Homo sapiens: one gene and its partner. The protein of the gene in region 2 purifies or fractionates together with the protein of the main gene of each other region. This does not show direct contact. Each region holds a gene or a part of one and is shown on either strand. Other genes may lie near its edges. The genes, in order: CARD14 and MALT1.

The links.
Region 1: the proteins of MALT1 (region 2) and CARD14 purify together in Homo sapiens (affinity purification with western blotting; 2 studies listed by BioGRID and IntAct, with this or other methods). This does not show direct contact.

Annotation. Positions count from the first base shown.
Region 1 is NC_000017.11:80,200,537-80,208,042, reverse strand, and holds part of CARD14 (caspase recruitment domain-containing protein 14), read right to left. Parts: intron 7,371-7,506; exon of another isoform or gene 6,300-7,370; coding exon 6,173-6,299; exon of another isoform or gene 5,864-6,172; coding exon 5,623-5,863; coding exon of another isoform or gene 5,619-5,622; exon of another isoform or gene 4,367-5,618; intron 4,266-4,366; exon of another isoform or gene 4,222-4,265; coding exon 4,158-4,221; exon of another isoform or gene 3,817-4,157; coding exon 3,702-3,816; coding exon of another isoform or gene 3,692-3,701; exon of another isoform or gene 3,447-3,691; intron 3,009-3,446; coding exon 2,838-3,008; intron 2,711-2,837; exon of another isoform or gene 2,513-2,710; coding exon 2,391-2,512; exon of another isoform or gene 1,074-2,390; coding exon 958-1,073; coding exon of another isoform or gene 954-957; exon of another isoform or gene 1-953. UniProt on the Homo sapiens protein: Acts as a scaffolding protein that can activate the inflammatory transcription factor NF-kappa-B and p38/JNK MAP kinase signaling pathways.
Region 2 is NC_000018.10:58,730,076-58,737,581, forward strand, and holds part of MALT1 (mucosa-associated lymphoid tissue lymphoma translocation protein 1), read left to right. Parts: intron 1-3,321; coding exon 3,322-3,499; intron 3,500-3,806; exon of another isoform or gene 3,807-3,905; intron 3,906-4,231; coding exon 4,232-4,306; exon of another isoform or gene 4,307-4,312; intron 4,313-5,126; coding exon 5,127-5,254; intron 5,255-7,506. UniProt on the Homo sapiens protein: Protease that enhances BCL10-induced activation: acts via formation of CBM complexes that channel adaptive and innate immune signaling downstream of CARD domain-containing proteins (CARD9, CARD11 and CARD14) to activate NF-kappa-B and MAP kinase p38 pathways which stimulate expression of genes encoding pro-inflammatory cytokines and chemokines.

The DNA of each region.
Region 1 (7,506 bases), on a different chromosome or scaffold from region 2:
AAACACAGGTGGCCTCGCTTTGAGGGGACCTTGTAAAGAAAATAGGCCCCAGGCCCCAGTGGTGGGAGGCAGGTTGTCTAGAACACAGCCTTGCTTCCTGGAGTAGAAAGGGCACAGTAGCAGGACATCTTGGTCTGTCCCCAGGAAACCAAGTAATTTTTTTACTTTTTTTTTTTTTGTCCTTAGCCGACAAGGATTAGATTGTGCTAGCCAAGCACCAGTAAGTGGAGGGTCAGTGGAGCTGAGGCCGGGTGGGGTTCTGGCCTTACAATGGTCCTCTGAGCTGCTCTTGGGGGAGGGAGTGCCAATTTGTTAATTTACAACTTTAAATTTCAATTATAAAATGTCATTTTCCAGTGACTAGGCTACTTTTGCCCACTGTAAAAGGCACCGTCATCCTGGTATCAAGATTCTGGAGAGGCCAGATTTGAAATCAAGTTTGTTTGGTAAGCGTGAAATCAGAGCAGTTGTTGTTGTTGTTGTTTTGTTTTGTTGAGACAGAGTCTCGCTCTGTCACCCAGGCTGGAGTGCAGTGGCGCGATCTTGGCTCACCGCAACTCCACCTCCCAGTTCAAGTAATTATCATGTCTCAGCCTCCCGAGTAGCTGGGATTACAGGCGCCCGCCGCCACACCTGGCTAGTTTTTGTATTTTTAATAGAGACAGGGTTTCTCCATGTTGGCCAGGCTGGTCTCGAACTGCTGACCTCAAGCAATCTGCCCACCCTGGCCTCCCAAAGTGCTGGGATTACAGGCGTGAGCCACCACGCCCGGCCAAAATCAGGGGAATCTCATGAGCAATCAGCGGGGCCCTTGTCCCAAAGTTGTGCGGAAACGGCCCTGTCAGCGCCTCAGCTTCCTGCAAACCGCAGAGCACACTCCAGAGGCACCTGCCGTGGGCTTTGGGGGAGCCCAGGAGCCGCTTCGAAGCCCCTGCCCAGCCCCCAGCGTGCACCTACTTGAGCTTCTTTGCCATCTTCTCGTTGACAGAGACGTGGATGACGATGGGGAAGATGTCCATCCTGTGCAGGGTGCAGACACTGTCCAGCTGGACGTCCAGGAGGGCATGGGTGTTCTTTGTGGGAGGGAGAGAAGAAGTGAGTCAAGATCACAGGCCTCAGAGGAAGCAAAGGGAGCCAACGCCCAGGTCAGAAGGGCCCTCCGGACAGGCTGAGGGCAGGGCAGGAGCTGGGCAGAGCTGAATTTTGTAGAGGAGATGAGGGAATAGAGCTTGCCACTTTCTTCTCTCTTTTTTTTATTTTTATTTTTTATTTTTTTGAGACGGAGTCTCGCTCTGTCGCCCAGGCTGGAGTGCAGTGGCGCGATCTCGGCTCACTGCAAGCTCTGCCTCCCAGGTTCATGCCATTCTCCTGTCTCAGCCTCCCGAGTAGCTGGGACTACAGGCGCCCACCACCACGCCTGGCTAATTTTTTCTGTTTTTAGTAGAGACAGGGTTTCACCGTGTTAGCCAGGATGGTCTTGATCTCCTGACCTCAGGTGATCTGCCCGCCTCGGCCTCCCAAAGTGCTGGGATTAGAGGCGTGAGCCACCGCACCCGGCCCACTTTTAATTTTTTTAGCTTTTAAATGTTTTGTAGAGACGGGTGTCTCACTGTGTTGCTCAGGCTGGTCTCAAATTCCTGGGCTCAAGCAATCTTCCCGCCTAGGCCTCCCAAAGTGTGGGGATTACAGGCGCGAGCCACTGTGCCCGGCTACTTTCTTCTCTTTTTATTTTTTAATTTTTTTTAGAGACGGGTCTCACTGTGTTGCTCAGGCTGGTCTTGAACTCCTGGGCTCAAGCGATCCTCCCACCTCGGGTTCCCAAAGTGCTGGGATGACAGGCGTGAGCCCCAGGCCCAGCTGAGTTTGCCACTTTCTAAATGAGGCTGTGTGCTATGCAGTATTAAGAGTTTCCATCCCTTTGATTTTTCACTGGGAAAATCTAGAAATTGTGAGCTCTGGGGATGAGGTGAACTTGGCATGGAGCTCCGCCAGCCCCTACAGGAGGCACGCAGATGCCAGACTCGGCTTCCCGTGCCTGTGCAGACACAAAGCTGTGGTTCACGGGGAGCTGCTTTTCACGCGTTTGCGCCTTCAAACGTGGAGAGTGTTGTTAGCTCGGATTTATTCATTCTCGAACAAATATCTATTAAACATCCCCCAAGCTGAGGAAACTGAGATTCAAGGAGTTGGGAGACCTCACCCACAGTCACGTGGATCCTAACTGGCTGAGATGAGTTTTGGGCTCCTGCTGGGCTGTTGGGACCCAGAGGTCGGCGACAAGGTCACCCAGGTCTCAGGTCGGTCCCTGTACCTTTATCTCATCCCCCTCCTCTGCATTCCTGAAACCCTTCCCAGGACAGCTCCCCTGCCCACCCCGCCCTTGACCTCACCTTTTCCATGAGGGACTCCACAGCATGGCGGGTCACCCAGCAGCGGCCCCCGGACACCTCTCCCTCCTGGATGATGTCCCCTCTCTGGCTCCAGGCCTCATACTCCTCCTGGCTCAAGTACTCTACAGGTGACATTGGACGGGGCCATCATAGACCAGCTGTGTGGGGGTCTGGGGGAGTCCCATGGTAAACACCCCTGTCCCCGTGAACCCTGCCAGCACTGGGAGAAGCTCTTCTTAGGATGTCCACTTTACAAACCTGACCCTGCACACCCCGCTCTGTGCCCTGCACCTCCATCCTGAACTATCTGGACACAGCAGGTGAGTGTGGGAATGTGCGTGGTGGGGGAGGGAAGGAGGAGGGAGGAAGGGGAGGAAGGAGGGAGGAAGGGGAGGAGGGAGGGAGGGAAGGTGGAAGGGGTAGAGGGATTCCCAGGCAACAGCATACCTGCCAGGCACTTCTTAAACCCTTGGAGGAGGCACAGTTTCTCGCTCAGGATCTTCCCAACCGCCCTGGGCACGAGGAGCACAGGCCGGGGCCGGGCGGGTCGATGGGGCCGCACCAGGGTATAGGGCACCAGGGTGAGGCAGCTCTCGGCCCAGAAGCACGTGCTGGAGCCTGTGGAGGAGAGGATCCTGAGGGTGGGTGAGGCTGCGGCAGCCCCCAGCCAGCCTACCCTGCCCCGGGAGGGACTGGGTCTGCTTTGCTCACTGCAGCAGCCCCAGCACCTAGAATTCCAGGGGCACAGGCTCAGCGGTCACAGGACTCACTCCCAGTTCCATAGCCCCTGGCTGAGCGGCTCCTTTGCACGGGGGTTACACAGCTCTGTGGCTCTCCAGGGACTGCTTTGCAGCCTGCAACTTAATCCTGTTTCCTATAGGCCCAAGGGAGGATGGCGGAAGCCAGGGTTTTCTTCCTTCCAAAGGATCTGGGAGAGTGGCACCCTTCTCCTCAGCCATCCTCCAGGGCACAGGGTCCTAGCCCTCCCTCTGTCCTGTACTCCTCTCCTGAAATTTTTTTTTTTTCCTGAGACAGAGTTTTGCTCTTATTGCCCAGGCTGGAGTGCAATGGCACCATCTCGGCTCACTGCCACCTCTGCCTCCCGGGTTCAGGCGATTCTCCTGCCTCAGCCTCCCGAGTATCTGGGATTACAGGTGTGCGCCACCACACCCAGCCCCATGATTCTTGAAGACCAGATCCTGGCCTAAATGAGTGGCATCCCCCTGCCCCAGCTGACCAACTAGCAGCAGCTCCCAAAGCCCCTCACCCACTTGGAGCCAGTGGCCCCTGTGCCAGCTCACCAGGCCTCACCCTCCATCCTGCTGGGGTCCAACTGGCCCCTGTCAAAGGACAAACGCAGAGGGCTGGCCTTGGCTTTGTCCATACTGACGATGCGGACCAGCTTCTGTGGTCCCCCAGAAGATGGCTAAAGGAGGGACAGAGAAAGGATGAGGAGGAGCTGTTGAAGCCATCAACAGGAATGGGAATTCAGGGGAGATGATTGGCACTAGGGCGACCTGGGAGTGATGCAGAGGCGCAGATGCTCTGAGAACAGCCTGAGGTGTGTCTGCACTTGTGCAAGAGCCTGCAGGCTGGGCAGGGGCTGCAGACCCTGCCCTGGTTTGAAGGGGTGCAGAGGAGAGACAGGTGGGGTTACCCTCCAATCAGCAGCCCACTCTCCACACAGTGCCTCCTGCCACCCTGCCAGCACCGAGCCCCTCTTCCAGCCCACCCCAGTGGGGTCCAGGCCCCTCCCTGGAGCCTCACCTTGCGGGTCACGGTGCACTGCTGAGTCATGTCCTGGATGAGGGCTATGAGCTGCTGCTGAGCCCTGCAGAGACCAGCAGAGGCCCTGACCCAGCTGCCTCCTGCCAGGTGAGCAGGGCAGGGGAGAGCCGAGCAGGGGAGAGTGGGGGAGATGGCCGGGTGGGAGAGAAGGGCCTCCACCTAGAGCTCCACACATCCCTTTGCTGCAGGCTGGAGCGCTCCATCCTGGCGGCCATGCCAGTCTCCAGAGCTTTCAAAAGACTCCAGGGCCTCGGCCCACCCCTGGAGATGCTGATTTACTTGTCCTGGGGCGGGACCCAGGGGGTGCTGTTGAGCAGCCAGCGTACAGGGCCCCACTCCAGGACCTCAATATTCATGGTGGGTCCCTGGCCTGCAGCCTGGAGTCACCGAGAGAGCTGTTAGAAATGCAGAGTGCCAGGCCTCTCCCTGGACCTGCTGGCTCCGATCCCCAGGGGACTTGAGTTTGCAATGAGTGATGGGGGTGCTGAGCTCAACACTCCTGCTTTCTAGCACTGTGCGTTCCGTGCACTTGAAACTTGGAGCCTCCCATAGGCTGATCTAGAACAATGGTTTCCTTTTCTTTTTTTTTTTTTTTGAGACAGAGTCTCACTCTGTCGCCCAGGCTGGAGTGCAATGGCTCAATCCCGGCTCACTGCAACCTCTGCCTCCGGGGTTCAAGTGATTCTCCTGCCTCAGCCTCCTGAGTAGCTGGGATTACAGGCACCTGCCACCACGCCCAGCTAAGTTTTTTGTATTTTTAATAGAGACAGGGTTTCACCAGGTTACCCAGGCTGGTCTCGAACTCCTGACCTCAGATGATCCACCCGCCTCGGCCTCCCAAAGTGTTTGGATTACAGGTGTGAGCCACCATGCTCGGCCTAGAGCAGTGGTTTTCAATGGAGCAAGGCAGGGGGCAATGTCACTCCCCAGGGAGGGTGACCAGCTGTCCCTGCTTGCCCAGGACCGAGGGGCTTCCCTGCAAGTGGGGCTTTCAGTGCTAAGACCAAGACAGTCCTAGGAGAACCAGGGGACCCTTGGCAACCTATAGAGACATTTCTGGTTGTCACAGCTGGGGCATGGGAGTAGTCCCGGCATCCTGGGTAGGGCGGCCAGGGATGCTGCTCTATATCCTGCAGTGCCCAGGACGGCCCCACCACAGACGGGGATCCAGCCCCAAACGTCCATGGTACCAAAGCTAAGAAACCCAGAGCTAAGAAACCCAGATCTAGAATGTTCTAGAATGAACATTTCATTTGCAATATATAAAGCATCCATCACAAAGAAACAACATCTTCAGCAGTGATCTTGGCAGGCTTCCCTCCTTAGGGGGGTCTCACCACGCCCACCCTCTATTGCTGGGCAGGAGGAGGAAGCCGAGGCAGGCTGGGTGCCATTTCCCTGTGGGCCTCTCTGGGGACGCACCGAGCTCGAGGCAGCTGCTCACCTGGAGTAGTTGGGGATGGTGCCGTGCGCGGCAGTATCCTTCATGGTGTAAGAGTTCACGCGGTGGGCATGCCAGCAGCCGCAGCCCTGGAACATGGTGTCGGTGACGTGCAGGACCTCGTTGCAATGCACCTGCAGCTCCCCTTTGGCCCTGCCCTCCATGGCCAGGTTGACCCGGATGTAGAATGAGTCCCCCGAGGTCGCCACTTTGGCCTCCAGGTCCTGGAGTAGCCTCTTATAACCTGATAAAAGGGGACATGAGCCACAGATGAGCCACAGATACGAGCCTCTGCGAGGAAGGTTGCAGAAAATTAAAGTAGGAGAGAAGGAAGGACCCTCCCAGTCTCAGAAGCTGCTCTGGCACTGGAGTCAGTGGGTGGGAGGTTTCCAGCTGGCTTGGGGGCCTCCTGGGGACCTGGGGCACAGCCTGGCTGATCCTCTCTTGGCTCTGGGGGTCCCTGGCTGCTGGGCGTGCAGAAGAACCACCAGGGACTTAAGGGTCATGGAGTCTGGCCAGGCAGCTGTGCACACGAGAGGAGTGGTATGTGTACCGTCCGTGTTGACCTTCACAGACAGGCAGCAGAAGCCGTCCACCCTCCTGAGAAGCCCCACGGCCTCCTCCAGGGTCGTGTCCTCCAGGACTGCCTTGAACAAGGGCTCTGAGGCTTCGTAATCAACCTGAGGGCAAGTCGAGAAGGTCAGTCTCTTTCCCCCGGGACTCTGAATCCAGCCAGAAGACAGAAGGCGCTGAGGGCACTGAGGCGAGGCGCGGGCCAGCCCTGCCGTAGGACCACTGCCTGCACGCCTTGGTCAAAACAAAGCCACACACCAGAGCCTCTGTGGGGCCTTCACACCTCTAGTGATGCGTGCTACACATAGTGCTGGCCAGAGAGTCAACTGCCAACCCTTCCCCAGTCGAGATCGGGGGTTCTTTGTGATAAGCACTTTCCTGTCTTGAAAAAGAAAAGAAAAGAAAAGAAAGAACCTCGGTTCTAGAACATTCAAGAGCATTCTAGATAGAGGTTTCTTAGCCTTGGGATCATTCTGTGCTGCTGCGGGCTATACCGGGCCCTACAGGATGCTGAGTGGCATCCCTGGCCTTCACCTACCCGATGCCCTGGCTCTCCACCCACAGCCTTCCCCACTGTGAAGGCCCACCCCCCAGGGCTTCCACCATCCACTTCATTTCTTCTCAATATTGTTCTAAGCTTAGGAGAGTAGATATTTTTACAATAAAAATTAAGATGTGTTTTAACACCATTAGAATCTAATTGGCCCCCTTAGGATATCGGGACTATCTCCCTGAACATCGTCAAGGGGCTCTGTTGCTTGAACTACCTCAGAGCTGATAATTGGGAACCTTAAGAGCAGGGTTCCCCAACCCCTGGGCCACATACTGGTACTGGTCCATGGTCCATCAGGACCCGGGTCACACAGCAGGAGGGGCGTGGTGGGCAAGTGAGCATTACGGCCTCAGCTCCACCTCCTGTCAGCTCAGCACAGCAGTAGATTCTCAGAGGAGCATGAGCCCTATCGTGAACTGTGCAAGTGAGGGATCTAGGTTTCACGCTCCTTATGAGAATCTAATTCCTGATGATCTGTTACCGTCTCCCATCACCCCCAGATGGGACCGTCTAGTTGCAGGAAAACAAGCTCAGGGCTCCCACTGATTCTGAATTATGGTTCAGTGTATGATTCTTTCATTACATATTACAGTGTAATAATAATAGAAATAAAGTGTACAATCAATGTAACGTGCTTGAATCATCCCAAAACCATCCCCCACAACCCGGTCTGTGGAAAAGTTGTCTTCCATGAAGCCGGTCTCTGGTGCCAAAAAGGTTGGGGACTGCTGCTTAAGAGGACAACTAGAAATGTAAAGAAG
Region 2 (7,506 bases):
AAAGTTGTGGACGTTAAAAATAAGTTTATCTTGCTCTTGAAGCAGTAAAGAGACTGATGGAAAATAAAGTTATATTTTGAATACTTGATGGAGGTGTATAAGTTGTACCCTTTTTAAAGTGTATAATTTGGTGATTTCAGTATCTTCACAAAGTGGGCATCAGTCACCACTACCTAACTTCAGAACATTTCCATCACCCCAAAAAGAAACCCCATATCCATTAACAGTCACTCCCATTCCTCCTTACCCCAGCCCCTGGCAACCACCAATCTATTTTCTGTTTCTGTGGATTTGCCTATTCTGGACATTTCATATAAATGGAATCACCCAATATGTGGCCTTTTATGTCTGCCTTCTTTCACTTCACATGTTTTCAAAGTTCATTCATATTGTAGCATGTACTAGAACTTCATTATTTTAGGGCTAGATAATATTCTATTATATGATTATATTTTGTTTATCCATTTATCATCTCATGGACATTTTTGGACATGATTAATAATACTGCTGTGAGCATTTGTGTACACATTCTTGTGTGGACGTAGTTTCCATTTCTCTTCGGTATGTACCTGGAAGTGAAATTCCTGGGTCATATGGTAATCTATATTTAACTTTTTGAGGAACTGCAAAACTCTTTCCAAAGTTCTTACACCATTTTACATTTGTGCCACCAGAAATGAATGAGGGTTCCAATTTCTCTGCATCCTTGCCAACACTTGTTCTTGTCTGTCTTTTTTATTGTAGCCATCCTGGTGAGTTTAAAATGACTTGGAACTAGTGGCTAATGATGTTGAGCATCTTTTCATGTGCATATTTGCCACTCATATATCCTCTTTGGAGAAGCATCAGATCCTTTGCCTATTTTTAAATCAAGTCATTAGTCTTTTTTTTTTGAGATGGAGTCTTGCCCTGTTGCCCAGGCTGGAGTGCTAGTGGCACGATCTCAGCTTACTGCAACCTCTGCCTCCCAGGTTCAAGCGATTCTCCTGCCTTAGCCTCCCAAGTAGCTGGGATTACAGGCTCCCACCACCACACTTAGCTGGATTTTTGTATTTTTAGTAGAAACGGGGTTTCACCATGTTGGCCAGGCTGGTCTTGAACTCCTGACCTCAGGTGATCCACCCACCTTGGCCTCCCAAAGTGCTGGGATTACAGGCTTGAGCCTCCGCGCCTGGCCGTCATTAGTCTTTTTATTGATGAGTGGAAGAGTTCTTTATTCTGGATACAAGCTGTCCTTATCAGATAAATGATTTGCAAATATTTTCTCCCATTGTGTGGGTTGTCTTTTCACTTTACCTGATCTTCGTGGTTTATTGAATTAAATCCATTCTTTTGGTCATTATTTTTAAAACCCTATCTGTGCACTCCTTTTTAAAATTCCCTGTGTGTGCAGTCTTATTTTCATTCACAACAGTAATTTAGTTTTTTGCTAGGCTAGTCTCTTTTCTGTTAGCTTTCATTCCAGGTCCAATCCGTGTTTATTTCTGTTCTCCTGCCCATAATCTACCTCGCTCTCTCTCTGCCTTTGCAAATTTCTAGCCATTCCCTCTCTTAAGACCATCCCCTGTTGTTTCACTTCATACTGATATTCCTCTCTACTTTACTCATTTCATACGTACATGGTGGTTGTCCCACTAACATGATTTATGGCATTTAATTATGTGATGACTTTCATTGTTGCTTGATAACATAAACGTGTGAATCGTGTGAATTCATGTATGGAGATACATGAATCTCCTGATCTCCTGCTTAGAGGTCAGGAACTTTGTCCTTCTTTTTTGTTTCTCTCAGTGCCTACATGATAACTTCCAGTGCACACATGAGCTGTAATATAAACCCACACTTGAAAATGGGTATATCCATTTTCTCATTTTAGCTGAAACGTATTTGAAAGAACCATTTTTCTCATTTTAATCGAAATTCAGAAAAAGCAGACGACCTGGATTTTGTCCTGTAGGACCACATGAAGCAAATTGTCTTTAATTCTCAAAGCCGCATTCTCTGCTAGGAGTCGGGGCCATAATTACAATGGATTAGCTACTTTTGGTTCCCTGTCTAAATGGCTTTTACTATTTGCTTTAAAATACCCTGTAAAGAAATCATTAAATCCAGAATATTGAGAGAGCAAAATCAGTGGGCTCCAGATATTGCAAGCAGAGGGGAGGATATCTTCAAAAGTGTTTTGTCCAGTACTTTTATGAAGAAGTTCAGACTGATATTTTTGTTGTTTTTTACAGCCAAAACAAATTTCAAGAAAACATTGAGTTGTTTGGGTTAGTTTTTATAGTATCACTTCTCAGTAAGGAAATATGATTCATCTGTTGAGTCCTAAAACTATCCCAAATTTTAGATTATTGAGTCAAAAGACTCTAGATGGAAGATTGATATTTATATCTCATAGCAAAAAGAAAAAATAGCAATCTGCGAAGTCAGATTTCCCATCTCTGATTATAAAACTATATATTTTAATAACCCTTAACTGTTTATGGTAATACCTGCAGTTTCTTGACTTCATATTGCAGTTGCTATTCATCTGAATTGTGTTTGTTCATCCGTTAAATACTTACTAAGCTCCTGCTCTCTATGCCAGGAACACACAAATAAATAAATGTAAGACTATCTCTGCCCTAACAGAACTCCTAGCTTCATGGAGGAGACAAATGAGTCAGGAGAGAAATCCTAGCTGCATTCTTTTTTATATATCATAACATAAAATTGTATTTTATATTATACTATTGGTTACAAATATATTTTATAAATTAGGATATACTTCAGACAGCATTTTGATATTGTCTTGAAATGCAAATTTTAAGTGCAGACTGTTGGTAATTTATTTATTTATTTATTTATTTTGAGACAGAGTTTTGCTCTGTCGCCCAGGGTGGAGTACAGTGGCATGATCTCAGCTTACAGCAATCTCCACCTCCAAGGTTCAAGTGATTCTCCTGCCTCAGTCTCCCAAGTAGCTGGGATTACAGGTGCCCACCACCACGCCCAGCCAATTTTTGTATTTTTAGGAGAGATGGGGTTTCACCACGTTGGCCAGGCTGGTTTCGAACCCCTGACCTCAAGTGATCTGCCTGCCTCGGCCTCCCAAAGTGCTGGGATTATAGGTGTGAGCCGTCATGCCTGGCCTGTTGCCAATAATTTTAAATGCAAAATAACATTGTCTATATTTATAATTGGGTATTTCTTACATATGCTCACATCAACCTGAAGAAAATTAAAGTCAAGGTTTTTCTACAAAAAGTTATGCAGTCTGTATGTTCAGAGTGCATTTAGAATTGACATCTATCTCTCTCTTATTTTTCCTCTTTTCAGGGTTATTATATTATGCAGGACATGGTTATGAAAATTTTGGGAACAGCTTCATGGTCCCCGTTGATGCTCCAAATCCATATAGGTCTGAAAATTGTCTGTGTGTACAAAATATACTGAAATTGATGCAAGAAAAAGAAACTGGACTTAATGTGTTCTTATTGGATATGTGTAGGAAAAGGTAAGTTTTCTAATCTTTATTAAAGAATTGTTGGAGTTAAATATCGACCATGACAAACTAGAGAAACCTGTGAAATGCTAAAAGCCATTTGCGTTTGTGAATTTTAGTTTATACATTGAAACTGGAAGAACAAAACTAGAGGAAAATACATTTACTCCATGTATATCTAATTATTTTAACTCTTCATATTTGCTATAGAACACAAATGAAGAACTAAAGGGCATGGGCATTTACTCACACTACAGGGGATTCAACTCTCCAGAATGCCTTTAGATGACTTTAATAATCACTATAGTTATTCCCTCAGGAATTAACAAAACCAACACCCATGGAGTTGGGATCTCTGCTCACTAGTCAGTCCTGGTCTTCCAGACATGGAATGAGTAGCCGAAGCAGATGTTTGGAGGTTTGGATCCCATTTGTCTGCCATTGCCTTTCTAAGGAGTAGAACCAATGACTGTTCCTCTAGATTTACTATTTTTTTGCTTGCTCAGCATTTACCAATCAAAATCCAATGCCAGAGTTCAAATGCAACTCTAGTTTTAAAGCTAACAAGGAGTTAGTGGGTTATTTTGGGTAGATATGTAGCTACCTAGATGAAAAATTTTGAATCTATAATTTTAAATTATGTATTCTAAAAAACTGTTGTATTTTCTCATTATTTATACCCTTTTAAGAATGCTCTTTAACTTTTCATATTTCTATCTGCCCTCCTCCGCCTCCCTTAAATAGAAATGACTACGATGATACCATTCCAATCTTGGATGCACTAAAAGTCACCGCCAATATTGTGTTTGGATATGCCACGTAAGAACATTTGATGTTTACGTTGAAGTTTCCTTTATTGTTTGATGTCTTTTTGTTTTTGCTTTTTAGGAGCAGGGGTCTTAACTCTGTCACCCAGGCTGGAGTGCAGAGGCGCCATCATAGCTCACTGCTCCTGGGCTCAAGCGATCCTCCTGCCTCAGCCTTCTGAGTCGCTGGGATTACAGGCATGTGCCACTGTGCCTGGCCCCTGAGGGTTTTTTGATTATAGATTAGAGGCCTAGAAAATACCTATAGACATGTAGGCATAAATTTACCTCCTTGATATTCTGCGTAGAAAATTTTAAATGATCGACTTTAGCATTCCATATCATGGTATCTTAATTATTAAGCCCAAATTGGGCATGTAATTCCTGCTTAAAGATTAACTCTTTAATTATCAATGTCATGTGAGAGGCAGAAGAGAAAATGAAGCTTATTGGTGTATACAGAAGTCCCATGTGGCAAGTGTTTGCTTTTCTAACATTTTCTTTTTAAAAAATTATTTTTATTGGATATTGACAAGTTATAATTGTATGTATTTATGGGATACAAAGATATGCTATGATGTACGTATTCAATGTGGAATGATTGAATCAAGATAATTCACATATCACCTCAAATACTTATCTTTTTTCCTAACTGAAACATTGTACCCTGTGACTAACAGTCCCCACGCTGTCCCCACCCCCCCCCAGCCTCTGGTAACCACCATTCTGCTGGGTGCTTCTCTGAGTTCATTTTTATTAGCATCCACATATAAGTGAGAACATACAGTATTTGCCTTTCTGTGCCTGGCTTAACTTCTTTTTCTATTTTTAAGGTGTCAAGGAGCAGAAGCTTTTGAAATCCAGCATTCTGGATTGGCAAATGGAATCTTTATGAAATTTTTAAAAGACAGATTATTAGAAGATAAGAAAATCACTGTGTTACTGGATGAAGTTGCAGAAGGTAAAATAAAAAATAAAGAGAAAAGTACTCAGAAAAAGGAGAGCAGGGGAGACACACCTATTCAGGGTTCCCTCTCTGGTGATTGTTTTATTCTTATTATGTGGGTTTGGAATTAGTACCTACTTTATAAAACAATTTTTATATTAATATAACGTTCAGCAACACTTCTGCTATTTAATGTCATCTTTCCTTCCCTTTTGACCTAGCTCTCCACCATCTGTGCAGCATTACTCAGACTACAAGGCTAAGCCTCGGCACAGTCATTAATAAAGTTGAATTCTCAGAGCTCTACTTTGCTTCTATGCCCAGTGCCTTGGTACTGGCAAATCTCCCTATTTGAGGGTGGGTGGGTGGCATGGAGGGGTGGTGGGGAATTGTCCAGTGAGCAGTCTCTCCCAGGATGGGAGAGAGAAAACTTTACAGAAATTTTTAGACACTGCTGGGAAAAGCTGAGTTCATTTTTTTCCCTGATGAACTTAGTAGTTTTTAAATCCTGATTTAAGGATGTGATCCTAGGGGGTCTAATGCCACATCTTCCATTTCTATCTGTTCTCCCTGCCTGCTGGTATAATGCTGTGCATATGTCAGATGCTGAACAAGTACCTATTATTTCAGTAGATTGCACTGTGTTTTTTGAAAAAACATTTTATAAGCCATAGCAAAAAGAAGGTAACTTGGCCAGGTATGGTGGCTCAAGCCTGTAATCCCAGCACTTTGGGAAGCTGAGGCAGGAGGATCACTTAAGGCCAAGAGTTCAAGACCAGCCTAGGCAACATAGCGAGACCCTGTCTTCAAAATAAAAAATAAAAATAAAAAAGAAGAAATTATTTTACAAACTAGCACCACTAGAAAATGGAGTTTCATGGATGTTCCAGTGATGGCAGTTTGGGTATAAGGTGTTTGACCAACTGTCAGCCATATTTATTTTCATGTTTTTATCTGTGTAGCTATTTTAGATCACTTGACTTAGCCACTTTTCCATTTAACATAACCAGCCAGGGCTTTGGACTTCCTGCCACCCTCCCGCTTCATCCAGAGAAGTTCCACTTTTATTTGTTTTCTACATTAGGCTTCTTCTGAAGCTTACATTTGAAGGAAAGGCTCTGCTGCTTTAAAAAAAAAAAAAGAAAGAAAGAAAACCTTTGGATTATGTCAGTTATATTCAAACTGAGATCCAGTAAGGTGCTCCAGAAACTCTACAGTGTTTTATTTCAATTTCGTTTTTAAGTCCATTTTAACTATTTTAAAACTTAATAAAAAGCACCATGCTCACTCACATATGATATTTACCAAATTGTCATAGCAATGAATGGCATCCCGATATGTGCTGTGAGGATATTTGAACTTCTTATAAACATCTTAGACAGTTTTGCTTTTCGCTGATCTTTTTCAGTCCTACCATGTCTGCTTAACCAGAATTGCCCAGGCAGGAAGACCCTGTAGTGTACATGGAGCACACTCAGCTCAGTGCCGTGCACATTGTGCCCTTCGTGGGTAACGGCCCACTCATTGTACAAAATAAGTAAAGGCCTAATAGTATCATGATAAATAATACAGTTAAATCTAGCCCTTATTTTGAGTTTTGGATGCTTTGTGTCTGACCCCTGTCTTAGTAGTAAAGAGCAAAAGTAGTTGTATGAAATTTTTCACAAGTCATCCAATTTTGAAACAAAACTTTGCTGTTTCTCCCTTTGGATCTTCCAGATTACTTAATTGAAACTCATTCCATGGCTGGGCATGGTGGCTCACACCTGTAATCCCAGCACTTTGGGAGGCTGAGGTAGGAGGATTGCTTGAGCCCAGGAATTCAAGACCAGTCTGGGCAACACAGCAAGACCCCATCTCAATTTAAAAAAAAAATTATTTGGGGCCAGGTACAGTGGCTCATGCCTGTAATCCCAGCATTTGGGGAGGCTGAGGCAGGAGAATCACTTGAACACAGAAGTTTGAGACCAACCTAGGCAACATTGTCAGACCCCCCATCTCTATAAAAATTTAAAAAATTAGCCAGGCATTATGGTGTGCACCTGCAGTGCCAGCTACTCGCGAGACTTAGGTGGGAGGATTGCTCGAGCCTGGCAGTTTGAGACTGTAGTAAGTATGACCACACCACTGCTCTCCAGCATGTGTGACAGAGCAAGCCCCATCTCAAAAAAAAAAAAAAAGAAAATTCCAGAGGGAGAAAAGTATTCACAGATTATAAGCCAAGCAGTTGAAGGGGAAAATAAACATGTTACCAATTTCTTTTTTTA